Linked DNA regions of Homo sapiens. The protein of the gene in region 1 purifies or fractionates together with the protein of each later gene. This does not show direct contact. Each region holds a gene or a part of one and is shown in the gene's direction. Other genes may lie near its edges.

The links.
Region 2: the proteins of PCDHB5 (region 1) and RDH13 purify together in Homo sapiens (affinity purification with mass spectrometry; 2 studies listed by BioGRID and IntAct, with this or other methods). This does not show direct contact.
Region 3: the proteins of PCDHB5 (region 1) and CLEC4A purify together in Homo sapiens (co-immunoprecipitation; one large-scale study listed by IntAct). This does not show direct contact.
Region 4: the proteins of PCDHB5 (region 1) and HCN1 purify together in Homo sapiens (co-immunoprecipitation; one large-scale study listed by IntAct). This does not show direct contact.

The regions. Positions count from the first base shown.
Region 1 is NC_000005.10:141,132,117-141,140,276, forward strand, and holds PCDHB5 (protocadherin beta-5 precursor), read left to right. Parts: upstream 1-3,089; 5' UTR 3,090-3,318; coding exon 3,319-5,706; 3' UTR 5,707-6,499; downstream 6,500-8,160. UniProt on the Homo sapiens protein: Potential calcium-dependent cell-adhesion protein. May be involved in the establishment and maintenance of specific neuronal connections in the brain.
Region 2 is NC_000019.10:55,050,785-55,058,223, reverse strand, and holds part of RDH13 (retinol dehydrogenase 13 isoform 1 precursor), read left to right. Parts: intron 1-1,415; coding exon 1,416-1,571; intron 1,572-7,439. UniProt on the Homo sapiens protein: Retinol dehydrogenase with a clear preference for NADP. Oxidizes all-trans-retinol, but seems to reduce all-trans-retinal with much higher efficiency. Has no activity toward steroids.
Region 3 is NC_000012.12:8,131,913-8,138,596, forward strand, and holds part of CLEC4A (C-type lectin domain family 4 member A), read left to right. Parts: intron 1-1,856; exon of another isoform or gene 1,857-2,940; intron 2,941-3,672; coding exon 3,673-3,824; intron 3,825-4,875; coding exon 4,876-4,991; intron 4,992-6,227; coding exon 6,228-6,375; 3' UTR 6,376-6,684. UniProt on the Homo sapiens protein: C-type lectin receptor that binds carbohydrates mannose and fucose but also weakly interacts with N-acetylglucosamine (GlcNAc) in a Ca(2+)-dependent manner. Involved in regulating immune reactivity.
Region 4 is NC_000005.10:45,684,035-45,691,473, reverse strand, and holds part of HCN1 (potassium/sodium hyperpolarization-activated cyclic nucleotide-gated channel 1), read left to right. Parts: intron 1-7,439. UniProt on the Homo sapiens protein: Hyperpolarization-activated ion channel that are permeable to sodium and potassium ions. Displays lower selectivity for K(+) over Na(+) ions.

The DNA.
Region 1 (8,160 bases):
ATCTATAGATTCAATAAAATCTTAAACAAAATTCCAGCAGCTTTCTTTGTGAAAATTAATGAGCCGAGCATTAAGTTTATTTGAAAATACAAAAACAGTAATAACCAAAGGAACCCTGATGAAAAGGAACCAAACTAGAGATACCACACCAAAGTCACAATCCGCAGAATAAAGAGTTAATAAGCTGGACTTCATTAAAATTAAAACTTTCTGCTCTGCAAAAGATACTATGAAGAGAATGAAAAGACAAGACATAAACTAGGAGAAAATATTTGCAAAAGGCATATCTGATAAAGGACTGTTATTCAAAATATACAAAGAACGACTAAAACTCAGCAACAAGAACCCAATTTAAAAATAAGGCAAAGACCTTAAGAGACACCCACCAAAGAAGGTATACAGGTGGCAAATAAACATATGAAAAGATGCTCCATATCATATGTTAACAGGGAAATGCAAATTAAAATAACAGTGAAATATGACTACACACCTATTAGAATGACCAAACTTCAGGACACTGACAGTGCCAAATGCTGGTAATGAGAGCAAAAGGAGCTCTCATTCATTGCTGGTGGGAATGCAAAATGGTACAGACACTTTGGAAGACAGTTTGGCAGTTTGATACAAAACAAAATATACTCTTACCATGTTATCTAGCACTCATGTTCCTTAGTATTTGCCCAAAGGAGTTGAAAATTTATGTTCACACAAAAACTTGCACAGAGACGTTTATAGCAGTTCATTCATAATTGCCAAAACGTGGAAGCAACCAAGATGTCGTTTAGTAGGTGAATAGATAAACAAACTGCAGTTCATTCAACCCATAGAATACTATTCAGCATCAAAAAGAAATGACCTAACAACCCATGAAAAGACATTGAGGAAATCTAAATGGATATTACTAAGTGAAAGAAGCCAATCTGAAAAGACTACATACTGTGTGATTTCAACTACATGGTGCTCTAGAAAAAGCAAAACTGTGGAGACAGTAAAAAAATCCACTTGCATTGGGTTCTAGGGGAGGGAGGGAGGTATAAATAAGTGGAGCACAGGGGATTTTTAGAGCAGTGAAACTACTTTGTATGATATTATAAAGGTGAATACACATAATTTTAAATTTGTCCAAAGCCATAGAATATACAGCACCAAGAATGGGCCCTAATGTAAACTATGGACTCCAGGTTATAATGACGTGCCAATGTAGATTCATCAGCTGTAGCAAATGAACCACTCTGGTGGAGGATGTTGATAATGGGTGAGGCTGTGCTTGTGTGGGGACAGGGGCATATATGAAATCTCTGTACTTTACTCTCATTTTTGCTGTGAACCAAAAACCATTCTAAAAATTTAGTCTACTTTTAAAAAACTGGAGAACTTACTTCTCAGATAACAAAACTCATGATAAAGCTATAATAATTAACACAATGAGTTATTGTAGGATAAACAAGATTGAATAAAACATCTTCAGAGCTATGGTTACCTAATTTATAACAAAGATGACATTTCAAAAACAATGGAAAATGGATTGTCTTTTAAATAGATGGTGCAAAGGTTTAAAGCATTCAGATACTTACATTTTAAACCTTTTGACTCCAAACTCATTCACTTGAAAAGTTAATTTCAGGTTGATTATAGCTTTAAATATGAAAAATGGAATAATTAATCTTTCAAAATACATCATACAAGAATATTTTCATGACCTTGGAGTATGTGAACATTTAAATAGAACACAAAAAAATGCTAATCATACATGAAACTTATTGACAAATCTGACTAAAGGTAAGAAATTTTATTCATCAAAGACACATAATAGACTTGAAATAAAAACCATAGAGTGGGAAAAGATATTTGCAATACATATATCTTAAAAAGGACTTATGCCCAGAATATATGAGAAACTTCTGCAGATCAATAAGCAAACAGGCAAATGCCTCCCCCCAAAAAAGTAAAAAGGTTTGCATAAGCCCTTCACAAGATTGTATCCTAATGGCTGATAAACATGAAAATGTGCTCAAATTGTTTAATCATCAGGGAAAATGCTAACTAAAATTACAATATCATATCACCATACACTAACCAGAGTGGTTTAAAATGGAAAAGATAGCATCAAATGTTGACAAGAATGTGGAGCAACTGGAACTCTCATACTTTGCTGGTATTAGTACGACTACTTGAGAAAACTTTCTCATTATCTGCTAAAGCAAAATATATGTGCACATCTTAATGCATAGCAATCCAACTCCTTTGAATATATTCAACATAAACACATATATGTGGTCACCAAAAGACTAGTACAAGGATGTTTATACCAGTACTACCCCAAAGAGCTTAAACCTGGAAAACAATGTTCATCAACTGGAGAATGAATAAATAAATCATAGTATATTCATACAACAGAATGATATAAAGCAATGAGAATAAAACAAATAAGAACAAGATGCCACAGATCAATTTGCTGAACATAATATTGAGGAGAAGAAGCCAGACACACGAGAGTAACAATCTATAACTCCATTTGTATAAAGTTAAAAAAAAAAAAAGCAAAAAAAACCTATGACAACAGAAGTCAGGACAGTGCTTATCTTTTGGGGAGAGGGTGGTAACCAGACAATAGCAGGTGGGGACTTGGGTTTGGGTAGTATTTTTAATCTAGGTTCTACTTACAGGAGTGTGTTCACTTTGCGAAAATTCATTGAGTTATACACCTATGATTTGTGCCATTTTCTGGGTGTTATTGGTGTTTACTTCAAAGTGAAAGTAATTTTTCTTAAACTTTAAATTTCTATAGATATTCCTGATCACTTATTTAATATAATCAAATAAGAAACACCAAACAAAGTGTATTTGTGTACTCAAGGGTACTTTTATGGAGATTAATATATAATTTTAGTTTTTTTCTCAAAAGTATTTTCTCACTGAAAATTAACTCCACAACATTTATTTAGAACTTTCAGCAACTAAGAGCTGGAGATACCATCGGGAGAGCTTATGTGACAAAAGGGTATGGATACACGTCAGTTAGAATTTAGGATGAAATGGCAAATACTATATGCAATAGTAAATTAGGACGCCTGGTGGCGCTGCAGGCTAAGAGTGTGGATAGTGGGCTCTGCGGATAACTCAGACGCCATTAAGCTGGGGAATCCAAACTCTAAAAGAAGGACGCATTTTAGGTAAGATCTAGTGGCTAGATCTTCAGGGTGGGCTTCGTTCTTGTGGAAATCAGTCAAGAAAGATCGGATTCGCGGTTATTTATGCAAATCATCTGGGTGGATTGTGTACGGAGTTAAACTGCGCCTTCTGGACCGGGTCTGAACAATGGAGACTGCGCTAGCAAAAACGCCACAGAAAAGGCAAGTTATGTTTCTTGCTATATTGTTGCTTTTGTGGGAGGCTGGCTCTGAGGCAGTTAGGTATTCCATACCAGAAGAAACAGAAAGTGGCTATTCTGTGGCCAACCTGGCAAAAGACCTGGGTCTTGGGGTGGGGGAACTGGCCACTCGGGGCGCGCGAATGCATTACAAAGGAAACAAAGAGCTCTTGCAGCTTGATATAAAGACCGGCAATTTGCTTCTATATGAAAAACTAGACCGGGAGGTGATGTGCGGGGCGACAGAACCCTGTATATTGCATTTCCAGCTCTTACTAGAAAATCCAGTGCAGTTTTTTCAAACTGATCTGCAGCTCACAGATATAAATGACCATGCCCCAGAGTTCCCAGAGAAGGAAATGCTCCTAAAAATCCCAGAGAGCACCCAGCCAGGGACTGTGTTTCCCTTAAAAATAGCCCAGGACTTTGACATAGGTAGCAACACTGTTCAGAACTACACAATCAGCCCAAATTCACACTTTCATGTTGCTACGCATAATCGCGGAGATGGCAGAAAATACCCAGAGCTGGTGCTGGACAAAGCGCTGGACCGGGAGGAGCGGCCTGAGCTCAGCTTAACACTCACTGCACTGGACGGTGGGGCTCCGCCCAGGTCCGGGACCACCACAATTCGCATTGTCGTCTTGGATAATAATGACAACGCCCCCGAATTTTTACAATCATTCTATGAGGTACAGGTGCCCGAGAACAGCCCCCTTAACTCCTTAGTTGTCGTTGTCTCCGCTCGAGATTTAGATGCAGGAGCATATGGGAGTGTAGCCTATGCTCTATTCCAAGGCGATGAAGTTACTCAACCATTTGTAATAGACGAGAAAACAGCAGAAATTCGCCTGAAAAGGGCATTGGATTTCGAGGCAACTCCATATTATAACGTGGAAATTGTAGCCACAGATGGTGGGGGCCTTTCAGGAAAATGCACTGTGGCTATAGAAGTGGTGGATGTGAATGACAACGCCCCTGAACTCACCATGTCTACGCTCTCCAGCCCTACCCCAGAAAATGCCCCGGAAACTGTAGTTGCCGTTTTCAGTGTTTCTGATCCAGACTCCGGGGACAACGGTAGGATGATTTGCTCCATCCAGAATGATCTCCCCTTTCTTTTGAAGCCCACATTAAAAAACTTTTACACCCTAGTGACACAGAGAACACTGGACAGAGAGAGCCAAGCCGAGTACAACATCACCATCACTGTCACCGACATGGGGACACCCAGGCTGAAAACCGAGCACAACATAACGGTCCTGGTCTCCGACGTCAATGACAACGCCCCCGCCTTCACCCAAACCTCCTACACCCTGTTCGTCCGAGAGAACAACAGCCCCGCCCTGCACATCGGCAGTGTCAGCGCCACAGACAGAGACTCAGGCACCAACGCCCAGGTCACCTACTCGCTGCTGCCGCCCCAGAACCCACACCTGCGCCTCGCCTCCCTGGTCTCCATCAACGCGGACAACGGCCACCTGTTTGCCCTCAGGTCGCTGGACTACGAGGCCCTGCAGGCGTTCGAGTTCCGCGTGGGAGCCACAGACCGCGGCTCCCCGGCGCTGAGCAGCGAGGCGCTGGTGCGCGTGCTGGTGCTGGACGCCAACGACAACTCGCCCTTCGTGCTGTATCCGCTGCAGAACGGCTCGGCGCCTTGCACCGAGCTGGTGCCCCGGGCGGCCGAGCCGGGCTACCTGGTGACCAAGGTGGTGGCGGTGGACGGTGACTCGGGCCAGAACGCCTGGCTGTCGTACCAGCTGCTCAAGGCCACGGAGCCCGGGCTGTTCAGCATGTGGGCGCACAATGGCGAGGTGCGCACCGCCAGGCTGCTGAGCGAGCGCGACGCGGCCAAGCACAGGCTGGTGGTGCTGGTCAAGGACAATGGCGAGCCTCCGCGCTCGGCCACCGCCACGCTGCACGTGCTCCTGGTGGACGGCTTCTCCCAGCCCTACCTGCCGCTGCCGGAGGCGGCCCCGGCCCAGGCCCAGGCCGACTCGCTCACTGTCTACCTGGTGGTGGCATTGGCCTCGGTGTCGTCGCTCTTCCTCTTTTCGGTGCTCCTGTTCGTGGCAGTGCGGCTGTGCAGGAGGAGCAGGGCGGCCCCGGTCGGTCGCTGCTCGGTGCCCGAGGGCCCCTTTCCAGGGCATCTGGTGGACGTGAGCGGCACCGGGACCCTATCCCAGAGCTACCACTACGAGGTGTGTTTGACCGGAGACTCAGGGGCCGGCGAGTTCAAGTTCCTGAAGCCGATTATTCCTAACCTTTTGCCCCAGGGCGCTGGTGAAGAAATAGGGAAAACTGCTGCCTTCCGGAATAGCTTTGGATTAAATTAGAGATCTCGTGATGACGCGTTGTTTTCTGCCATTTATCCCAAACTTTTTCAGATCTAGAATTCGAGAGTGTCATGGACAAAAATTTCACCTTGAGATTGAGCTTTTATTTCCCTTTTTAATGGATTTGTCTGTTGAACTTCATGCTGTCCAAGTGTTGAAAAGTCAATTTTATTTCATTGCATTTATTTACATAGTGTCATTCCAAATCCATGCATGCTGTTGATTTTCCTGAGATTTTTTTCTCTTCTTGTTGGTATTTGTTGTGATAAACCACCTTAATAAAATCAAGTATTAATTTTATTTTCTATATATTCTGCCCATTCTATTTCATCACACTCTTAAGTATTATATATTTGATGCTAAAATGCAAAAATTAAAAATGTTTCACATCATCATATTTTAATTGTTTAAAACAAAGACAAATACATACATATGCTAACAAATGAAATATGTGAAAAAATATGTAAAAGGAAACAATCTTCTATTTACTCTTTTTTGCAGCCCTGAGTCCTATTAGCAAACTTTTTAAAAACAGTTTAATTGAATTATTACTTACATGAAGAAAAATGAACAAATCCTTTATGTTCAACTCAATATATATTCACAAAGTAACATATTTATTACCAGCAGCTTGAAGAGAAAATGAAACATCACTGGCACCCCAGGTGCCACACAAATTACTCCTTACAATCACTACTACCCCAAGTATAGCAAATATGCTGACTTCCAATACCATAGTTTAATTTTGCCTCTTCTGAATTTATATAAATGGAGTAATAAAGTATGAACTGCTTGTGTCTGGCTTTTTTCACTCAGCATTATGTTTATGAAATTTATCCATAATACAGCTTTTAAGTTTAGTCCTTTCATTCTCATTGCTGTATAATATTCCACTGTATGAATATACCACAGTTTATTATCTATCCTTTAGATCAGTATTTGGGATGGGGCAAAGTTTGGCTGTTATGAATTATACTGCTATAAACATTCTTTTAACATGCCTTTTGCCAACCTGTATATGCAGTTTTGTTGGGTATATGCCTAGGAGTGGAATTGTTGCCCATCTTGCAAGTACACGTTGACTTTTAGCAGACATTTCCCAATAGTCTTCCAGTGGTTGTACTAATTTACATTGCTATTCCCAGTGTCTGGATGTACAAATTTTTCCACATTTCTGCCAACAAACTGGTATTGTCTGTTTTTCATTTTATCCCATTGGCAAGCACTTTATACAGTTTTTAAAGCTCTTATATTTACTTGCTTATCACTAAGGAATATGTTTGTAACCATTATGAGCTGAACTGTGTTCCTATATCCCCCTCAAATTCATATGTTGAAACCCTAACTCCCACTACCTCAGAATGTGACTATGTTTAAAGATAGGCCCCTAAAAACAGGTAATCACATTAAAATGGGTCCTTAGGGCAGAACTTAATCCAATATAACTGCTGTACTTATAAGATGAGGAGATTAGAACATAGAGAAAGAGATGTCAGACATGTAAACACACAGAGGGATGATTATGTGAAGACACTAGAAGAAGATAGCCATCTACAAGCCAAAGAGAGAGGCCTCCAAATGAAACCAACCCTGCCAACACTTTGATCTTGGACTTCTAGATTTCAGAACTGGGAGGAAAGAAATGTCTGTTGTTTAAGCCACCCAGTCTGTGGTATTTGTTACAGCAGCCATCACAAACTAATGTAGTAACTTTCACAAACTTTAGACAATTAATTTCCTATCATGATTGCTGAGTAACTAGCACACTTAAAACAACTTCAATCTTTTGTTTTTCAGAGGTATCTATATTACTATTTTTGGGTACTTCTCTGGTCAATCTGAAACCTTTCTTTATTGTTCCAGTAACAACAGTTTCATTAGATTTTTGTATGAAGAAAAGAATAGCATTCTTATTCTTCTTTTTATATCTGTTTCTCTCTTAACACTTTCCAACCTCTCTCAGTTGAACTTCTACTCTTACATTTTATTTTTACAACCATAGCTAAGAATTCCTTGTCTTGTCTATAGATATATTTTATTTTATTTTATTTTATTTTGAGACGGAGTTTAGCTCTTGTTGCCCAGGCTGGAGTCCAGTGGCACGATCTCGGCTCACTGCAACCTCCGCCTTCCGGGTTCAAGCGATTCTCCTGCCTCAGCCTCCCGAGTAGCTGGGATGACAGGCATGTGCCACCATGCCCAGCTAATTTTTGTATTTTTAGTAGAGATGGGGTTTCTCCATGTTGGTCAGGCTGGTCTCGAACTCCTGACCTCAGGGGATCCGCCCACCTTGGCCTCCCAAAGTGCTGGGATTACAGGTGTGAGCCACCACACCTGGCCATCTATAGATATATTTTAGAAGATAATATTTAAAATTTACTTTTAATGACTATATAAATTATGAATGCCCTGCAGTCCCAAATCACCAAGAACACACCGAATCAGAACAAAGTT
Region 2 (7,439 bases), on another chromosome or scaffold:
GCCAGGCTGGTCTTGAACTCCTGACCTCAGGTGATCCACCTGCCTTGGTCTCCCAAAGTGCTGGGATTACAGGTGTGAGCCACCATGCCCGGCCCAGCCATAAATGTTTTTAATACCAATGAACTGGACACTTAAAAATGGCTAAGAGGGCGGGTCTCGGTGGCTCACATCTATAATTCCAGCACTTTTGGAGGCTGAGGCAGGAGGATCACTTGAGGCCAGGGGTTCCAGACCAGCCTGGACACCATAGCAACACCCCCATCTCTACCAGAGTTAGCCAGGCATGCTGGCACAGGTGGTACCTATAGTCCCAGGTCACTTGAGCCTAGGAGTTCAAGGCTGAATGAGCTGTGATGGCGCCAGCACTCCAGCCGCGGCAGCAGAGTGAGACTGACTCAAAAAAAAAAAAATAATAATAAACAAAAAGAAAAGGGGGTTAAGATGATAAATTTTAAGTGATTTGTATTTTACCACAACAAAAAAAATTGGAGGCTGGGCATTGTGGCTTATTTGTAATCCCAGTACTTTGGGAGGCCGCGGGGTGGATCACCTGAGGTCAGAAGTTCAAGACTAGCTTGGCTAACATGGTGAAACCGCTGTCTCTACTAAAAATAAAAAAATAAAAAATTAGCTAGTTGTGGTAGGTGCCTGTAATCCCAGCTACTCGGGAGGCTGAGGCAGGAGAATTGCTTGAACCCAGGAGGTGGAGGTTGCAGTGAGCCGAGATTGCGCCACCGCACTCCAGCCTGGGTGACAGAGTGAGACTCCATCTAAAAAAAAAAAAAAAAGGAGAGGATGGGGAATCCTCTTGCCTTGGCCTCCCAAAGTGCTGGAATTACAGGTGTGAGCCACCGTGCCCGACCAATTCAGTGATGTTTAGTATAGTCACAGAATGATGCAACCATCTTTAAAATCAATCTTAGAACATCTGTTACCCTAGAAAGAAACCTGCTCACTGTAACTATCAAGCTGTAATTCCCTCTCCCCACCCCCTGCCCTAGAAAACCAAGAATCTATTTTCTTTCTCTATGGATTTGCCTATTCTGGGCGTTTCATAGGTGTGAAATCATATACATAGAATTCATGTAAATGGGATTGTACGCTGTGTGGTCTTTCGTGTCTGGTTTCTTTCCCCGAGCACAGTGTTTCTGACGGTCATCCTTGCTGTAGCATGAGCCAGTGCTTCACTCCTTTTCACGGCCGTCTAATATTCCATCTCTATGGATGGACCACATTTTGTTGTCCCTTCATCCACAGATGGGCATTTGGTTGTTTCTACCTTTTGGCTTTTGTGAAGAATGCCGCAGTGAACATTGGTGGATGTGTTTTTGTGTAGACGTATGTTTTCATGTCTCTGGGGTCAGTACCCAGGAGTGGATTATTAATTTAAATCTTTTTCCATCCTGGGTTTTCAGGAGGCAACATCATCCTGGCCTGCCGAGACATGGAGAAGTGTGAGGCGGCAGCAAAGGACATCCGCGGGGAGACCCTCAATCACCATGTCAACGCCCGGCACCTGGACTTGGCTTCCCTCAAGTCTATCCGAGAGTTTGCAGCAAAGATCATTGAAGGTAGGAGAACGCTGGCCATGTGGGATGAGGACTGGGATAGGCGGCTCCCAGGGCCAGGCTCTGAGAAGTGAATGAAGCAAGCAAACTTTAGAGCAGAGTTTTGGCAAACTATGAGTTAGGGGCCAAGTCCAGTTGCTGCCTTTTTTTGTACAGCCTGCAAGCAACGACTTTATTTATTTATTACTACTGTTATTTTGAGAGGGAGTCTCACTCTGTCGGCCAGGCTGAGTGCAATGGCGCGATCTCGGCTCACTGTAACCTCTGCCTCCTGGGTTCAAGCGCGGACCTCAGCCTCCTGAGTAGCTGGGATTAAGATGCCTGCTACCATACCCTGCTAATTTTTGTATTTTTAGTAGAGACGGGGTTTCACCACGTTGGCCAGGCTGGTCTGGAACTCCTGACCTCAGGTGATTCTCCTGCCTCAGCCTCCCAGAGTGCTGGGATTACAGGCGTGGGCCACTGCGCCCGGCTGACTTTGTTTTGTTTGTTTGTTTTGAGACAGATGGGGTCTCGCTCTGTTGCCCAGGCTGGAGTGCAGTGGTGTGATCTTGCCTCACTGCAACCTCCGTCTCCCGATTTCAAATGATTCTCCTGCTTCAGCCTCCTGAGTAGCTGGGATTACAGGCACCCGCCACCGTGCCTGGCTAATTTTTTGTGTTTTAGGTAGAGACAGGGTTTCACCATGTTGGTCAGGCTGGTCTCGAACTCCTGACCTCAGGTGATCTGCTTCCCTTGGCCTCCCAAAGTGCTGGGATTACAGGTGTGAGCCACCGTGCCCTACCTGAATAATTAGTTTGTTTGAGACAGGATCCATCTCTGTCACCCAGGCTAGAGTGCAGTGGTGCAGTCATGGCTCACTGCAGTCTCAACCTGCTGGGCTCAAGGGATCCTCCCACTTCAGCCTCCCAAGTAGCTGGGAGTACAGGCATACGCCACCACACACAGCTAATTATTGTTTTATTGTTTTGTTTTGTTTTTAGAGCTGGGGTTTCACCATGTTGCTCAGGCTGGTCTCCAACTCCTGGGCTCAAGTGATCCACCCAGGTCAGCTTCCCACAGTGCTGGGATTACAGGCGTGAGCCACCGCACCTGACCTTATTAAGCATTTATTGATCAAGTGCCTTCCCCACCATGGTTAAAGAAATATGTGTTTGTTATGGGACATTTATAAAATACTGCAATGTAAAGAAGACAGAACTGGCTGGGCACAGTGGCTCACGCCTGTTAATCCCAGCACTTTGGGAGGCTGAGGCAGGTGGATCCCTTGAGGTCAGGAGTTCGAGACCAGCCTGGCCAACATGGTGAAACCCTGTCTCTACTAAAAATACAAAAATTAGCCAGGCGTGGTGGTGCACACCTGTAATCTCAGCTACTCAGGGTGCTGAGGCAGGAGAATTGCTTGAACCCAGGAGGCGGAGGTTGCAGTGAGCTGAGATTGTGCCAGTGCACTCCAGCCTGGGTGACAGAGTGAGACTCTGTCTCAATAAAAAAGAAGACAGAACTAAACAACTTTGATCTGCACCAGCCCCAGGAGAATCACTTTTATGGATCTTTCTAGTCTTGTTTATAATAGGTTTGTGTGTGTATTTATATATTTTTATGTAAAACTGGGACCATCCTCTAGCTTTTCTATTCTTGTTCATCTTTAAATAGACTCAAGAATACACTAAAATTATTTATTGTTTAGTTGACATGTATACTTGTATATATTATGTACAGCATGATGTACATTGTATACATTGTAGAATGGCTAAATCAAGCTAATTAACATATGCATTACCTCAAATACTTACCTGTTTTTGTGGTGACCACATTTAAAATCTCTTCTCTTAGGATTGCTTGAGCTCAGGAGTTAGAGACCAGCCTAGGAAGCATAGTGAGACCTTGTGTGTACCAAAGATTAAAAAAAAAAAAAAATTAGCCGGGCATCCTGGCATGTGCCTACAGTCCCAGCTACTCAGGAGGCTGAGGCAAGAGGATCACTTGAGCCCGAGAGTTCAAGGCTGCAGTGAGCCGTATTTGTGCCACTGCACTCTAACCTGGATGACAGAGCAAGACCTTTTTTTTGAGATGGAGTCTTGCTCTGTCACCCAGGCTGGAGTGCAATGATGCGATCTTGGCTCACTGCAGCCTCCGCCTCCTGGGTTCAAGCGATTCTCCTGCCTCAGCCTCCCAAGACTATAGGCGGGTGCCACCATGCCCGGCTAATTTTTGTATTTTTAGTAGAGACGGGGTTTCACTATGTTGGCCAGGCTGGTCTCGAATTCCTGACCTTGTGATCCGCCTGCCTCAGCCTCCCAAAGTGCTGGGATTACAGGCATGAGCCACCATGCCCAGCTGCTTTGTTTCTTTTCTAGTCTGGCACTGAAAGGGCCAAAGCTTTCTTCTTCAGAGTCAATGTGCCCCGCTCAGTAAACGGGTACTCAGGAAATGAACAAGGAATGGGGGAGTTGTGGGACCTCATTTATTTAGCAGACGTGATCTCAGACCTGACCAGGTGCTGGAGGTGTGAGATGAACCAGAGCTGTCCTTGTGCCACTCACAGCCCTAGGGAGGCAGGTGCAGGTGCACATTCGTTGGTTCATTCATTCATTCATACTGAGCCCCTGCTGTGCCCTTGGGGATCAAGAAAGAGCCGGCACTGTTGTCGGGTAGGTGAGAGGCACTACGGTGAGATCACAAAGAACAGTGAGAGGGCAATGCCTCAGAGTCTCAGAGGTGGATGAACATTTATTAAGCACCTGCTGTGTACCAGGTACAGCACTGTCACCTTCATGCACACTGTCCCAGGCAATCCCACCCAGGGCGCCTCTGATCCTGTCTCTGGCTTGTGGACACAGGTGTCCGGAGCACTGAGGTCCCTGAGACAGTGAGGACCCCGGCTGGACACACCTGGGCAGGTGATGCCTCCTCTCTTAGCCACACGTTCCTCTTCCGGGAAATGGAATAATTCCTTCTATTTTCTGGGATTCTCTAGAGGGGTTTTTTTTTTTTTCTGAGACGGTATCTTGCTTTGTCGCCCAGGCTGGAGGACAGTGGCACATCTCGGCTCACTCCAAGCTCCGCCTCCCGGGTTCATGCCATTCTCCTGCCTCAGCCTCCCGAGTGGCGGGGGACTACAGGCGCCTGCCACCACGCCCGGCTAATTTTTTATATTTTTTACTAGAGACGGGGTTTCACCGTGTTAGCCAGGATGGTCTCGATCTCCTGACCTCATGATCCAGCCACCTCGGCCTCCCAAAGTGCTGGGATTACAGGCATGAGCCACCACGCCCAGCCTCTCTAGAGGATTAAGTAAAGCTGTGTCTGTGACTTTTTTAGCAAATCAAGTACCAGCTTCTTGGTGTTTTCCTAAGATCAACAGCCAGGAATAAAGACAGCAGTGGATTTAAAAATAGTGAAGATCGTCCATTTTATGTGGTGTGTATTCTACCACACTGGGGCAGGCCAGGTGCAGCGGTTCACGCCTGTCATCCCGGCACTTTGGGAGACAGAAGTTTTGGGAAGATCAGTTTGTGAGATGACACTCTGACAAAGCTGGAAGCTGTGGCTCTTCCCAGCTCCCGACTAGAAAGAACACAAAGCAAAGAGCCCCAGGAAGCAGGTACCCACAGCCTTGTTTATCAGGGAGTTTGAGATCAGCCTGGGCAACATAGCAAGACCTCATCTCTACAAAAAATACAAAACAATCAGGCAGGCGTGCAGGCTCACGCCTGTAATCCCAGCACTTTGGGAGGCTGAGGCGGGCGGATCACAAGGTCAGGAGATCGAGACCATCCTGGCCAACACGGTGAAACCCCGTGTCTACTAAGAAACACAAAAAAATTAGCCGGGCGTGGTGGCGGGCACCTGTAACCCAGCTACTTGGGAGGCTGAGGCAGGAGAATGGCGTGAACCCGGGAGGTGGAGCTTGCAGTGAGCCGAGATGGCGCCACTGCACTCCAGCCTGGGTGACAGAGTGAGACTCCATCTCAAAAAAAAAATAAAAAACAATGAGGCAGGCGTGATGGTGTGCACTTGTAGTCCCAACTACTTGGGAGGTGGAGGTGGGAGGATTGCTTGAGCCTGGGAGGTTGAGGCTGCAGTGAGGGATTTTTTTTTTTTTTTTTTAAGACGGAGTTTTGCTCTTGTTGCCCAGGCTGGTGCAATGACGGGATCTTGGCTCACGGCATCCTCCACCTCCTGGGTTCAAGTGATTCTCCTGCCTCAGCCTCCCGAGTAGCTGGGATTACAGGCATGCGCCACCACGCCCGGCTAATTTTGTATTTTTAGTAGAGACGGGGTTTCTTCCTGTTGGTCAGGCTGCAACCTCCATCTCCTGGTTTCAAATAATTCTCCTGCCTCAGCCTCCTGAGTAGCTGGGATTACAGGCACCTGCCACCATGCCCGGCTACTTTTTTGTTTTAGGTAGAGACAGGGTTTCACCATGTTGGTCAGGCTGGTTGACCTCAGGTGATCTGCCCGCCTCGGCCTCCCAAAGTGCTGGGATTACAGATGTGAGCCACCACGCCCGGCCTGCAGTGAGCTTTGATTGTACCACTGCACTCGGGGTGAGACCCTGTGTCCAAAAAAAAAAAAAAAAAAAAAAAGTTGAGGCAGTTCCCAGATAAACAAAACAACAGGCCAGGCACTGTGGCCCACGCCTGCAATCCCAGCACTTTGGGAGGCCGAGGTGGGCGAATTGCCTAAGCTCAGAAATTCGAGACCAGCCTAAGCAACATAGCCAAACCCCATTTCTACAAAAAATTTTAAAAGTAGCTGCTTGTGGTGTCGGGCGCCTGTGGTTCAGCTATGTGGAAGGCTGAGGTGGGAGGATCGTTTGAGCCCTGGCGGCGGAGGTTGCTGTGAGCTGAGATCGCGCCACTGCACTCCAGCCTGGGCCACTGAGTGAGCTTCCCTCTCATAAAAAGAAAAAAAAAAAAACAGGCTGGGCGCGGTGGCTCACACCTGTAATCCCTGCACTTTGGGAGGCAGAGGCGGGTGGATCACGAGGTGAAGAATTCAAGACCAGCCTGACCAAGATGGTGAAACCCCGTCTCTACTAAAAATGCAAAAATTAGCAGGGTGCGGTGGCGGGCACCTGTAATCCCAGTACTCGGGAGGCTGAGGCAGCAGAATCGCCTGAACCCAGGCGGTAGAGGTTGCAGTGGGCCATGGGCCAAGATCACACCACTGCACTCCAGCCTGGGTGGCAGAGTGAGACTTCATCTCAAAAAAAAAAAGAAAAAAAACCAAAACAAAACACCAGAAGCTGGCGGCACTCCTGGGCGCCCAGCTGTGAGTGGAGTCTCCCTGTCCCGCCTTTGGGCCTTACCCGTGCTGCGCCTGCTGCCTGCATCCCCCTTCCCTGGGTCTCCGCACGTGGGCCCTGCCTCATTTTCCCGGTCCCAGTTTCTGCGTCACCTCCTGAGAGGGGCCTCCTGTCAGCTTCCACGCAGCTCTGTCACGGGTAGATTCTCTCACGAGTGGAAGTGGCTCTCAGCTGCACTGGAATGTCCGGTCCACACGGACGGGGCCTCGGCTGTGCTGTCCACCCTGTATTTCCAGTGCCCAGTAATAGGTGCTTAGAAAATACTTACTGAATGAGTAAGTATACAGTTGTACCAGGCAGGTGATGTTATTATCCTTTTTTTTTTTTTTTTTTTACAAGGAGTAAACTGAGTCACAGAGAAGTGATGTGACTTGGCCAGGATCATGCAGCTGGTCGGGGTGGAGCCAGGCTTTGAACCTGTCTGTCCTGCTCCAGAGCTGGTATTCATGACGGGTGTGCTGCAACCCCCTCCTTCTCACACAGAGAACCAGATGGTGTCTGTGTGTTACGCGCTGGACACCTAATTCACGATCCCCGCCGAAAACCACTTCGGGAGC
Region 3 (6,684 bases), on another chromosome or scaffold:
GTGGTTTGCTACATAGACCAACCCATCACCCAGGTATTAAGCCCAGCATCCATTAGCTGTTCTTCCTGATGCTCTCCCTCCCCGGCTTGCTCCCTCCACCACAGGCCCCAGTGTGTGTTGTTCCCCACTGTGTGTCCAACTCATGGATATTTATTTTAAATTTTGGTTTATAATCCAATACTGCTCTATTTTGTAGTTCCAGCTTTGGACATTGGGAACTTTTTCATTTGACTCCTGTGACCCTTTAACATATCACCACGTGTTTTTTCTTTTGTTTTGGTTTAGCACTTCCTCACTTTCTGGGACTGCAAAATGCTTGAGACTCACATTGTACATTTCATGTCCCTATCCTGGAATCAGATATTTCTTTGAGGAGCCCTAGTTCCTTTGATTGGAGAATAGTGTCCTATGAAATTTGATAATTTGTATTGTCATTTTCATTCAGTTCAATGTATTTTTAAAAATTTCCCTTTAGACATCTCCTTTGACTCGTGGATTATTTAAAAGTGTGTTGTTTAGTTTCAAGCGTATGGAGATTTTCCTGTGTTATTTCTTTTATTAATTTCTGGTTTCTTTTCACTGTGGTTGGAGAAAACGATATGATTTCAGCAATTTTAAATTAGTCGATGTTATTTAATGTCCCGAGATATGGTTTGTTTCAGCATATGTTCCAGAGGCACTGGAAAAGAATGGGTATTCTGTTGTTGGGTGGAGCGTTCTATAAATGTGGATTGGATCCTTGTAATTGATGATGTTTATAAGTTCTATGTTCTTGCTGATTTTCTGTGTAGTTCTGTCAATGGTTGAGAGAGAGGTGTTGATGTATCCACCTATAATTGTATATTTGTCAATTCCTCTTTCAATTGTATCAGTTTTGCTTTATACATTTTGCAGCTTTGTTTGGTGTATACACATTTGGGGTCACTTTACAAGGCTCTGTTTATTTTTTTTTCTGTCTAGTTTTTTTGTTTCTTTGTGGGTTTTTTTGTTTGTTTTTGTTTTTTTTTTGTTTTTGTTTTTCAGACGAAGTCTCGCTCTGTTGCCCAGGCTGGAGTGCAGTGGTGCGATCTCAGCTCACTGCAACCTCTGCCTCCTGGGTTCAAGCGATTCTCTTGCCTCAGCCTCCTGAGTAGCTGGGATTACAGGTGTGCGCCACCATGCCCTGCTAATTTTTGTATTTTTAGTAGATATGGGGTTTCACCATGTTGGTCAGGCTGGTCTCAAACTTCTCATCTCAGGTGATCCATCCACCTCGGCCTCCCAAAGTGCAGGGATTACAGGTGTGAGCCACCACGCCCAGCCTTTTTTTGGTATTTTTAGTAGAGACAGGGTTTCGCCATGTTGGCCAGGCTGGTCTAGAACTCCCGACCACAGGTGATCCGCCCGCCTCAGCCTCCTAAAGTGCTGGGTTTACAGGCGTGAGCCACTGTGCCCAGCCTTTTCTGTCTAGTTTGTTTCTGTTGCTCAGTTGACATTTTCTGTTGTTTTGTCTTCCAATTCACTAATCTCTCTATCCCCTTCATTCTGCTGAGTCCATCCACTGAGCTTTTTATTTTGGTTATTATATTATTCAATTATAAAATTTCCATTTTTTTTTTTTTTGTCTATCTACTGTGTTGAGGCTTCTTTATTTAAGAAAAAAGTGATACATGATGTGGGATTAAAATCAAGAACATCATTGAACTTCACCTTCCCTCCAACCAGTTGCCCCAAACTCCCCTGCCCCCACCCTTTGTGTTCCCAATTCCTTCCTTAGTGAATGAAGAACTTAATCCCAAAAGCCCTGGCACAAACTCCAGGTGCTCTTTCCCTAGCTCCTCCCCTCCCCCTGTCCCCCATTCCTAGAAGGGCAGGCACCTCAGTTTGAATGCATGGGAGAGCCCAGAGTGGTGACGGAGACAGGGGGAAAGGCTTCCCCCTCAGGGAAAGGGACCGAGGAGTACAGTGCAGTGAAGTGAGGGCTCCCATAGCCTGGGGTACCAAAATGGGGCCCTGGGGCCAGAGGAAAGGACACTGGTCCCCCTGAGAAAGGAGACCCAACAGCCTCAAAATCCTCTCGTTGTGCATAGCCACTGCTTGATCGCTTGCCCTTCTGGCGCCGGTTACAGAACCACACTCGGACCACATCCTTCTCCAGCCCAAGCTGCTGGGCGATGTGGCTGATCTGCTGCAGTGTGGGTTTCGGGCACCGCAGGAACAAATTCTCCAGGTTGCCTCTCACTTGGTTCTCGATACTGGTTCGCTTTCTCTTTCGGGCCTGCACGAGGGTTTCTGCTTTGCATATCTCCTGAAGATTTTCATTGTTGTCAGCTTCCTCCACCCACTTCTGCAGCAAGGGCCGCAGCTCACACATGTTCTTGAAGCTAAGCTGCAGAGCCTCAAAGCGGCAGATGGTCGTTTGGCTGAACACCTTCCCAAATAGAACCCCCAGGGTGAGCCACATCGGCCTGTGTATATCCCAGGGTGATCCTCTTCTGCTTCAGGAGCTTGGCAAATTGCTCGAGTTCTTTCTGCAGAGCTTTGATGTCCTGGGACTCCTCCGGGTTTTGCTCCAGCTTCTCCTTCTCCAGCTTCACGGCACCAGAGGGGACGGTGCAGGGCTCCGGGGAGGCCCCATCGGAGTTGCTCTCCACCCCGACTCCTGCTTCGCCCTCAGGCTGAGAGGTCTCCAAGCCGTCTTGGGGCACTAGCCCCACTCCAGTCTGAGGCCCACAGTACGCCATCCCCCCGCAGAACTCATACGGCGGGGGACATGGGGGAATCCCCCACTCCTCAGAGCCTGGCCCAAACCCCGGCCCGATTCCTGGCCCTCCAGGAGGGCCTTGGAAGCTTAGCCAGGTCCGAGGATCAACCCAGCCCGGCTCCGGCCCCCCTGGCCCATCACCTCCACCGCCTGGAGGGGGTGAGAAGGCGAAATCCGAAGCCAGGTGTCCCGCCATGGGGAAGGAAGGCGCCCCAAGCATGGTGAAATCTTGGTTTTTCTTTATATCTTCTAGTTCTTTGCTGAAACTTTCTAGTTTTTCATTTGTTTCAAGCATGTCTGTATCTTCTTGTTGAAGCGTTTTTGTTTTTTGTTTTTTTTTAATCATGGCTGCTTTTAAATCTTTGTCAGATAATTCTAACAATTTTATTATCTTTTTTTTTTTTTTTTTTTTTTGAGACAGGTTCTCGCTGTGTTGCCCAGGCTGGTCTTGAACTTCTGGGATCAAGCGATTCTTCTGCCTCAGCCTCCCAAAGTGCTGGGATTACAGATGTGAGCCACCGTGCCCGGCCCCATTTTTGTTGTCTTGATTGTAGGCATCTATTGATTATTATATTTTATTAAATTTGAAAACTTACTGGTTCTTAGCATAATGACTTATTTTCTATTGAACTCTGGATATTTTTGCATTATATTCTCAGAGTCTGGATCTTATTTAAACATGTTTTCGTAATAGCTGGGCTTTTCAGATGGCACTTCAGCAGGAGAAAAGGGGCCCTGCCTCATTACTGCCTGATTGAGGTAGACTTGGCTTCCTTGACACCTGAGGGGCAGGGGCTCCTGGTTGCATCTGAGTGTGGAGGGGAGTTCCAGCTTCCATGTGCTCTCTCTTGGCTCTTAATTTTAATAATACACACACTTTTAAGAGTGATTATTTATATTGCACGTATGTGCCCCTCTTCCCAATACAGAGACAGCCTGGAGCTGTTGCCCAAAGAATTGGAAGTCATTTAGTTCCAACTGCTACTTTATTTCTACTGAATCAGCATCTTGGCAAGACAGTGAGAAGGACTGTGCTAGAATGGAGGCTCACCTGCTGGTGATAAACACTCAAGAAGAGCAGGTACTTTCTAATAGATAATGGGGCTGTGAGCCCTGCCTGATCTTTGTATATCTCTCTTGGCTAAGAAGGAGGTTTTTGTTACTTTGGGATATTTGCGCTGTGGCAGAAGGCTTTCAATAAAATAGGTAGAAAGGGCTCCTAAGCCTTTATATTCCATACCTCCTTCCTGCTTCAGTAAAACTAACCTCCCCGGAAGAAATTGTGACATTAAAAATATATGAGGGTTGAATGGAAGGATGAAAATGTTTCAGTCTGAAATATCAATTTGTTATTTCAATATGTAAATGTTTTATACATGATTAACTACTTAACAAAGAAGAGGTATTAAGTTGAATAGAGAAAAGAAATAAAGTTAACTCATGATGAATCACAATCAACACTCAGGAATGAAAATAAAGAATCCCTGAAGTTATGAAAGGAAAATGACTGAATCTGCCAAAATTTTCTCATGTACAACTTTGAAGAATGTAATCCCTTAGTGAAGAAAAGAGGGGAAGTAAACCTGAGATGAGAATTCATTCTGATCATAGAAATTGCTTCCATACTGGCTGGGCATGCTAGCTCATGCCTGTAATCCCAGCACTTTGGGAGGCCAAGGCGGGCGGATCACTTGAGGCCGGGAGTTCAAGACCAGCTTGGCCAAAATGGTGAAACCCAGCCTCTACTAAAAATACAAAAATTAGCCAGGCATGGTGGCACACACCTGTAGTCCCAGCTACTGGGGAGGCTGAGGCATGAGAATCGCTTAAGCCTGGGAGGCAGAGGTGCAGTGAGCCAAGATTGCACCACTGCACTCCAGCCTGGGACAGAAAGTGAGACTCCATCTCAAAAAAAAAAAAAAAAAAAAATTCCTTCCGTATGTACTGAACATCATGCTTACAAGCGATGTCTTTGATTCTGCCCTGCTCAGCCAGAGATCCCCATTCCTACGTAGAGCTCTAATGCAGCTGTTGCTGGATCCTCTCCTTTTCTTCTTGTTTCTCTAAGGTATTAAGAATTCAGTTTAAGCTGAATACTGTAAAGGCTGTGACTCCTTCTTTTCCCCCCTCAGGATTTCATCTTCCAGAATCTGCAAGAAGAATCTGCTTATTTTGTGGGGCTCTCAGATCCAGAAGGTCAGCGACATTGGCAATGGGTTGATCAGACACCATACAATGAAAGTTCCACGTGAGTATAGAATGAGATAAAAGAATCTTGGGTCCTGGATCATGCAGAGAGCTTAGGGTATTCTAGCTATCAGCTATAAAAGTAAAATAGCTCACTCTTCTTTTAGCTCTTGGGTACTAGGTTAAATAATTTCATTATCTCATTTAATCTGCGCAAGAACCCTATGAGGCACACATTGTTATTTTTCCCACTGTAGATATGAGGAAATTGAGCTTGGAGAGTGTAGATAATTCAGCTAAGGTCACCCAGTGGTGTCAACAATTGTTCTCAAATCAGGTGGATCTTACTGTGCTTTTAACCCGTATATTTACCTGTCTCTACATAGTGAAAACCCATGTTGATTAAGATCATAACCAATTATTAAGATTTAATAATGCTTTTTTTTTCTTTTTTGAGACAGGGTCTTACTCTGTCAACCAGGCTGGAGTGCAGTGGTGCAATCATGGCTCACTGCAGCCTTGAATTCCTGGGCTCAACTGATCCTCCCACCCAAGTCTTCTGAGTTGCTAGGATGACAAGTATGTGCCACCACACCCAGTCAGGCTGAAGATGTAATGCTTCTTATGAAGCAAAAATGCTAAATTCTGATAATCTTATATCTCATATTTATGTAATTCTTTAATTGCATAAATTACATACTTTACATATATTACATAAATTACATAAAATACATACTTTACTGGATTACCACCTTCGATCTTCATATCCACTGTATGAAATAAATAGTGATATTACTCTAGTCCTTATTTTTTAGATAGAAAAACTGAGAATCAGGGAAGTTAAATTACTTGTCCAATAACAAGGATAAGTAGAAGATTCAAAAGATTTTACTAGTTCTCTAGACTTTAAAAACAGTGCATTAAAAAAAGGAAAAAACTCTATTGATAAGTGGGACCAGGGTAAAATCTTTTCATCATACAAGGACACCCTATAGGTTGATGGACCCATAGGAACAGGACATAAGGATGGACAAATAGAAGAGAACCTCTAGAAAATCTATGGTGAGGATATTCAAAGCAGTAAGGTAGAGAACATTGAGTGACATAGGCACAGTTTTCAAAGGAAATGCCGGAAATGCAGATGGAGGAGAAGCTGCATGATGAGTAGCAGAAAGGTGGATTTGGGCATATCTGACCCTATGTTCCATGAAATTCATCCCTCGCTCCTCACCCCTGTCTCTAACCCTTTTCAAAGCTCTGTTTGAAGAAATGCCCTCATCCTTTTTGTCGCTTTCAGATTCTGGCATCCACGTGAGCCCAGTGATCCCAATGAGCGCTGCGTTGTGCTAAATTTTCGTAAATCACCCAAAAGATGGGGCTGGAATGATGTTAATTGTCTTGGTCCTCAAAGGTCAGTTTGTGAGATGATGAAGATCCACTTATGAACTGAACATTCTCCATGAACAGGTGGTTGGATTGGTATCTGTCATTGTAGGGATAGATAATAAGCTCTTCTTATTCATGTGTAAGGGAGGTCCATAGAATTTAGGTGGTCTGTCAACTATTCTACTTATGAGAGAATTGGTCTGTACATTGACTGATTCACTTTTTCATAAAGTGAGCATTTATTGAGCATTTTTTCATGTGCCAGAGCCTGTACTGGAGGCCCCCATTGTGCACACATGGAGAGAACATGAGTCTCTCTTAATTTTTATCTGGTTGCTAAAGAATTATTTACCAATAAAATTATATGA
Region 4 (7,439 bases), about 95 Mb from region 1:
ACGTGTGAATTTATTTAGTTACTTTTTCTTAGTATACATGTAAGTTATGCAACTTTAAATTTTAGCAAATGTTTCACTGTTGCATTTAGTAGATATTATGATTTATACTATTAAAATATTATAAGATAGTTTTCATTTTTTTCTGAGCAACTTTCCCTTTAAACCTCCTTCGGGGTATGATTATAAATTGAGAATCAGTAAAGAGGTACACTTTACTAATCATATTTAATTATGTGGACTTGGGTTTATGAACGTGCCTGTTGAATAATGAAAGAAATTTAAATGCACTGGAAAGATATATTACTTATTATTTGTATCATAGGTTCATTTAAGAAAATTATATTCAACTATATCTGCTTGATCAAAAACCACAAACCAAAACAACATCACCACCACAAAGCAAGATAAATAGTATTTGTAATTCTGCATTATTATACTCAATGCACCTATGTCCTATAGTGAGCAGGAAACCAGCAGAATGCATTTAGTATGATTTTCAGGTGATAATCTTATCATTCTGAATATAATTCTTGTGTTTAGCAGATAATTCACTTCATTATTTAGAAACAACAATTGGGCTCCGGAAAAGAACTTTCAAATAGAGTCTCTTGTAAGTACAGTGCAAATTATTGCAGATCATTAGCACTACATGAAGAGTACTGAGCATTTGCAGGGTCTGTGACAAATTTTCATTTTATCATTTTGTGTAAAGGAGTAACAAACTATGAATTAGGCTGACACTATATATTTTAGTTGTAGAAATAGTGATAATAAAGAAAAAAGTCTGCATGCACTATGAAAATTATATTTTCTCTAAGTACTTTTCTTCTAAAAATAATTTTCTTTGTGAAGGCATCTGGATGTACAACTTACCATTAGTTTTACAGGAAAAAAAAATCAGGATTCCTGGTGCATCCTGGAATTTTATGTTTTTGCAAAATAAACCTTCATGGCTCTGTTAATTCTATTTGTATATATGTGCTACAGAAACTATTCAAGGGACTTTGTAGAAGAATATATATAGAAGTAAAGAATATATATAGAAGTTGATTATTTTTGAGTTGAGTGTTTATCTGACACATTTCACCCAACTTTGATAAGATTGATTTCATGACTCTTTCAAGTTATGTTAGTTAGTTTTCTCATAGTATTTTTCTATTTTGTCTAATAGTTGACCACGCAGTTAAAGCAAGGAAGCAACATTACTCATGCTTTAAATTTACAACTTATAATTTTATTTATATAAACCTAATTTTATTTTCAGGTCACTAGCTGTAACTCTAAAAACATAAGGCTAATTTTACATACATACAAAGTTAGTAAATATTTATAAATTTTAGACTATCAGCTTTGTTGTATACAGTTATTCAGTATTTTTTAAAAAGTGCTGCAACAAACATCTTCGCACCTTACTCTTCATTGTTTTGGCTAAAGTTCAGGGAATGGAATGACTGCCTATGAACATTCTAGAGATTCTATACATATTGATTTGACCAATTAATACTGCCTCCAGTTTACAGATTTCTTAAAATGACACGAATAACGTAGGTTCTCCAAGGTTGACATTCCTGTTATGATATTTACAGGCTGTTTTAGGACAGAAAATGTAACCTGTCCTCCATTTCATTCAACATAGAGTGACAAGAGTGATCTTTAAAAAGCAAATCTAATAATATTGTTATGCTCTTTAAAACCTTTAGTAACTTCCCATTACTGTTAGACTACATTGGACAAACTTTCTATGAGCTTCAAGACCCTGCATAATTTCAGCCGATATATGCAGCCTCATTACATGCCACTCATTCCAGCTCTGTGTTCCAGCCACTTGGGTAAATTTTTAGCTCCTAGAACAACCTGAGTTCTCTCCTGCAACTAAGATTTTAATGTGACATTACCCCCAAGCTTGAAATACTCTTTTCACTTTTTATCACTCCACATAACTAGTTTCTACTCATCTTTTAGATTTCCATTTAATCATTGTGCACACACTTATTTTTCTATCTAGGCTTTCTGTTCAGCAGAATTTATAATTATTTTTATATGTGTCCTTTCCCTGGAATTTAAACCATGCTACCTTATGAATCTTACTCAGTTTTACATTCCCAATGTTGTAAAAATGCACATAATAGACTTTTCTTGCCAAACTTTCTTAGAGGCTTCATTTTTTTTTCTTCAACTTTTATTTTAACTTCAGGGGTAAATGTGTGGGATGTGCAGGTTTGTTAAATAGGTAAACATGTGCCATGGTAGTTTGCTGCACAGATCATCCCATCACCTAATTATTACATACAGATATGGTTTATTTTTAACAGCTTTTTTGAGACAAAATTCATATACCATACAATTCACCCATTTAAAGTAAGCAATTCAATATTTTCTAGTAAGTTCACAGTTATGCAGCCATCACCACAATCAATTTTAGAATATTTTGTCATCCTAAGGAGAAACCCCATATGCATTAGCACTCACTTTCTCTCCTCTCCCGCCCTCCCGCTCAGCCTTAAGCAACCACTAATCCTCTCTCTGTCTCTGTAGATTTTTGCTTATTCTGAATATTTTATATCAGTGAAGTCATGCAATATATAGTATTTTTTATTGGCTTCTTTCACTTAGCATAATGTTTTTTCAAGGTTCATTCATGCTGTTACCTGTGTCAGTACTTTATTCATTTCCTTGCTGAATAACATTCCATTTTATGGATATACTACCTTTAATTTATTCATTTATCAGTTGATGGACATCTGAGTTGTTTCTGCTTTTTGGTTATTGTAAATACTGCTGATATGAATATTCTCGTACAAGTTTTTGCACAGAGATGTTTTCATTTCTCTTTGGAGTGAAATTTCTAGGTCATCATAACAGACCTGTAATAAATATTTATTGACTGAATGGACAAAGAATTATTCTCCAAGCAGGTCATGAGAACATTTAATCTTAGAGTTAATAAATTCAGATGAAAGCAATGAAAGCTCTTATTTTTTCCTACAGTAATACCTGGCATCTCCTTCCCACTGGCACCTGCAAGTATGTGCCCCAACTATTACATTTCCCTGCCCAATACACAGATGAATAAATGAAACTGCAGAGAAGTTATGTAGCGTGAACATGGTGACATAGATAGATAGTAAGAACTGGGCCAGGAATTCAGTTCTTGTGAATATTAATTTTGTCACTTCAACTCTTTTACATAATAAGAAACAAGGCTGCCAGTATAAATAATTCTCCAAACCTTCTGGGAAACGTGATGGATTGAACCTAATCATTTATACTTCCTCCCTCTTGAAGTCACTCCAAAATAATATGAAAAAGCACAGACACATTGGTAAGTAGAAGAAAGAGGAGACATCAGAGAATATAGATCTCAAGAACATTTGTAAAATAGGAAGTTAATGGACAAATTATTCCACTTCCACAATCCTTCACCCATTGAAATCCAGAAGAATTCAGGACTTGGAAATGCCAGTTATGAAATAGTTCCAGGAAAGCCAGACTGAAAACAGAATTAAATAAGGGTTTCCTTAGTGAATACAGAACTCCCTGTGCTCACATTAGGATGCTTGGAGCCAGGCCAATTTTTCTCAGTCGGGAAACTGGAGAAAATACCTCCAAAGGGAGACATTTCAAAGTCTTCAGATAAAAAATCATGTTTATTGCCTAATCACTCTGCAAAAATTCCCGCATGTGTACATTGAGGCTGTGATTATATTTTTGGTATGGCATTGGTTAATATGGAACTGAAAGCAAAAGATAACCAGACATTTGAGAAAAGTCTCATGAGGGAAGACTAAATCAAGCAGAGAAAGACTAAATCAAACAGCCAAAGAAGGTCCAGAGGGATGGCATAAGGAGAAATGACAGTATTATAAAAAATACTCCACAAATGATATCTTCATAAATATTTTATCTGCACAATAAGAACACGTTGCTATGAAAAAAATAGTAAGAAATTTAAAAAACAGCTCTTGGATGAAATGTGTTAGCAGATAAAGTCTAGGAAGCCCGTTAGAATTAGAACAAAAAGACAAAAGGGAATAGGAAATATAAGAAAATATAGCAAAACCAATAACTAATTTATAAGGTCAAAATCTACCATAAGGTATTCTAGAATGATAAAAAAGTGAAAATGGACATATGGAATTAATAGAGACATTTTTGATAAAATTTTCCAGATAGCAGCAACTGAAATGTCTGTTCTGAGGAACTTATGGAATACTTAGCATCATGAAAGAAAAAGACTGTCCAAGGATCATTACACAGAAGCTTTACAACACCATTGAATAAGCAACAAACAAACAAATGACTAAGACTTTTCAAAGAAAAAGTTACATATCAAGAAGTGGGAATAATACTTTAAGGTAAATGACGATGTAACAAAGTCTGCAAAATTCTGAGAGAAAGTAATCTCCATAAGAAATCCATACCTTGCCATAATACAAAATTTAAATAAAGATATTCAGAAATTAAGAACTCTAGTATTAACTACCCATGTACCCTTTCTTAGAAAGTTATTAGATGACATGTTCCTGCAAAACAAGAAATTACACCAAACAACATGAAGACATAGAAGCTAGGAAATGGGCTCTAACACAGAGAAACCTGAAGTCCCAGGAGTACTCCAAAATAGCTAGCCTTGAAAGAAACCAGTCCAGACTGGGGCGGTAAAGCAAAGCGTTCTGGAGGAAGGCCTTCAGGGTAGGAAAAACAAATAGATGGATATCAGCATTTGATAAATAATGTTACTAGGTGTTCCAGAGATCATTTGGAACAATATATTGATGACTTTCATATTTTGTAGAGTACATTGGAGACAAGTAAATAAACAAAAGAACTTTATTAACTCCAGAATGATCTAAAGGTGTCTAAAAAAGGGAAAAGAATCACAGTTCCTTGCTTGGTTCAACAGTACCTAATGGTTATTTGGTCATAATAATGTAAACAAGTTGACTGTTTTAAATAAAGATTGTGGTGCAATTATTCTAGGTTGGTGGGAGGGCAGGAGAAACGTAAATGTGGTTTGGGTGATGTCAGAAAGCTAAGTCCTTGTGTTCCACAGTTGGCAGCTAATGAATAGTATTTAAAATTGATAAATTAATTTGTCTTTGAAATATGAACTAAACACTAAAAGAAACAATTATGGTGGTTGAATTTGGAAAGTGATATGTAGGGTAAAAGGAAAAGGGAGAGGCTTATATGTTCTCCTTATAATCCTTGATGCTGTTTTGCTTAAAAAAAAAAAAGACTGGGCATATATTATTTTGAGGTAACAATATTAGGAACTGTTTGGGTCAGAATCTGAGCTTCACCACCTTAGTAACTGGACCTTAATTTTCTCAATTATAATAGAAAAAAATATATATATATGTAAAATTCATGGGGTATATAGTATATATAGTGTGTATATATACTGTATATGCTATATAAACATTTCTATATATGTAGTGCTTAGAAGTTATGCTCTGCATTTAATGCTATTTAAGAGTTAGTTATTTGTATGAGTGTAAAATTAAAACAGAATTAAGGCATGTTAGTTGTTTGAAAAATTAAATATTCTCTAAGTACATACTCTAACCGTTTCCATAATTTCTGAAGAAAAAAATATATGAAGGAATGGCCATGTAAATGGTGTGCTGCTATTTCCTTTTTACCTTCATGCAATCCCTGGCAGCAGAAGCCCTGATGTGCAATGCCATATTTTATATATGCTGTGTGAAATTGGTCTAGTCATGAGGCAGTTAGCACTGGAAAACTTTTTTTTTTTTTTGAGATGGAGTTTCGTTCTTTTTGCCCAGGCTGGAGTGCAATGGCACGATGTTGGCTCACCGCAACCTCTGCCTCCTGTGTTTAAGCGATTCTCCTGCCTCAGCCTCCCAAGTAGCTGGGATTACAGGCATGTGCCACCACGCCCAGCTAATTTTGTATTTTTGTTAGAGATGGGTTTCTCCATGTTGGTCAGGCTGATCTCAAATTCCTGACCTTGGGTGATCCGCCCGGCTCGGCCTCCTAAAGTGCTGACGTTACAGGCATGAGACACTGCTTCCGGACGGAAAACTTTTAATATATCCTGTTTCTGCAAAATTTTCCAGTTTAATCTCTTTAGTTGGTATAGAATGCTACCGTATTGAACATTTGGAAATAGCTTTTAGGGAAAATTATAATGGCATTCATTGGGTTGCATGTGCTACTTTCTGTTCATCTTTCTTTTCATCAGAAAATGGCATAGTTAAACCATTTGGGATGTTATTTCAAATCAGTTAAGTATTACATATGAGGCAAATAAGATGAGTTATAACCTGATAAATCTTTCCTTTTCTTTTTTATTGTCATGTTTAACAGTCTAAAAATTGTTATTTAGAAATATAATTATTTCTAGTTAGGAACGTAAAAGAATTTGAGAAATCTATAAATTTGACAGAATTAAAAGAAATCTTTGTGATATCATTTCTAGAGCAGTTGTCACTTATACCCTTGCAGAATGTTTTAGCCTTATTTTATTAAAAAGACAATGCACCTTATTAAAATTTACACTACCTAGGTTGTTTGAGGAACATGAGCAGAGACTGAAAAAATGAATATAGAAAGTTACTTGATTAGTTTTTTGTTTATTTGTTTTTTGAGACAGAGTCTTGCTTTGTTACACAGGGTGGAGTGCAGTGGCATGATCACGGCTCACTGCAACCTCCGCCTCCTGGGTTCAAGCAATTCTCTTTCCTCAGCTTCCAGAGTAACTGGAATTACAGGCATGCACCAACCACACCTAGCTAGTTTTTGTATTTTCAGTAGAGATGGGGTTTTACCATGTTGGTCAGGCTGGTCTTGAGCTCCTGACCTCAAGCAATCCACCCACCTTGGCCTACCAAAGTGCTGGGTTTACAGGCGTGAGCCACCGTGCCTGGCCTATTTGATTAGTTTTTAAAGGGAGAACAACTGTTCCTTATTTTTCCTATAGAATAGTCATTCTTTGTTTAAATAGTATTTTTTAAAAGTTGTCTCTTTTTCTAAACAATAAATTTGATATTTACCCTGAATATCCATGTAAGTGAATTAGAATGAAAAGTTTGGACACCTGTATTTTCTGTGATCTGGATATATATCTAATGTATAAAAAGCAGAAATACATGCTAGAAGCACCAAGTTATGGTTGAATAAGTATTGCACAATATAAATAATCCCATAATTCTATTGGCTATAATTACTGATTATACTAATCATTCATGATTAGCCATTTGTGTTAGTGATTCTAGGCTTGAAGACTCATAAAATACTTCACAAATCACATTAAAGCTATTGACCCTCTGACCCATGCATTTATTTACAATATTTTGCCTGTAATTTCAAAGATTTGTAGTTTCCTTGAAGCACATTTATTTTTGGAACCCAAATTAAGACTTCCTGAACTATCTAATATTGTCATGAAGAAATAGAGACACTAAAAACAGTGT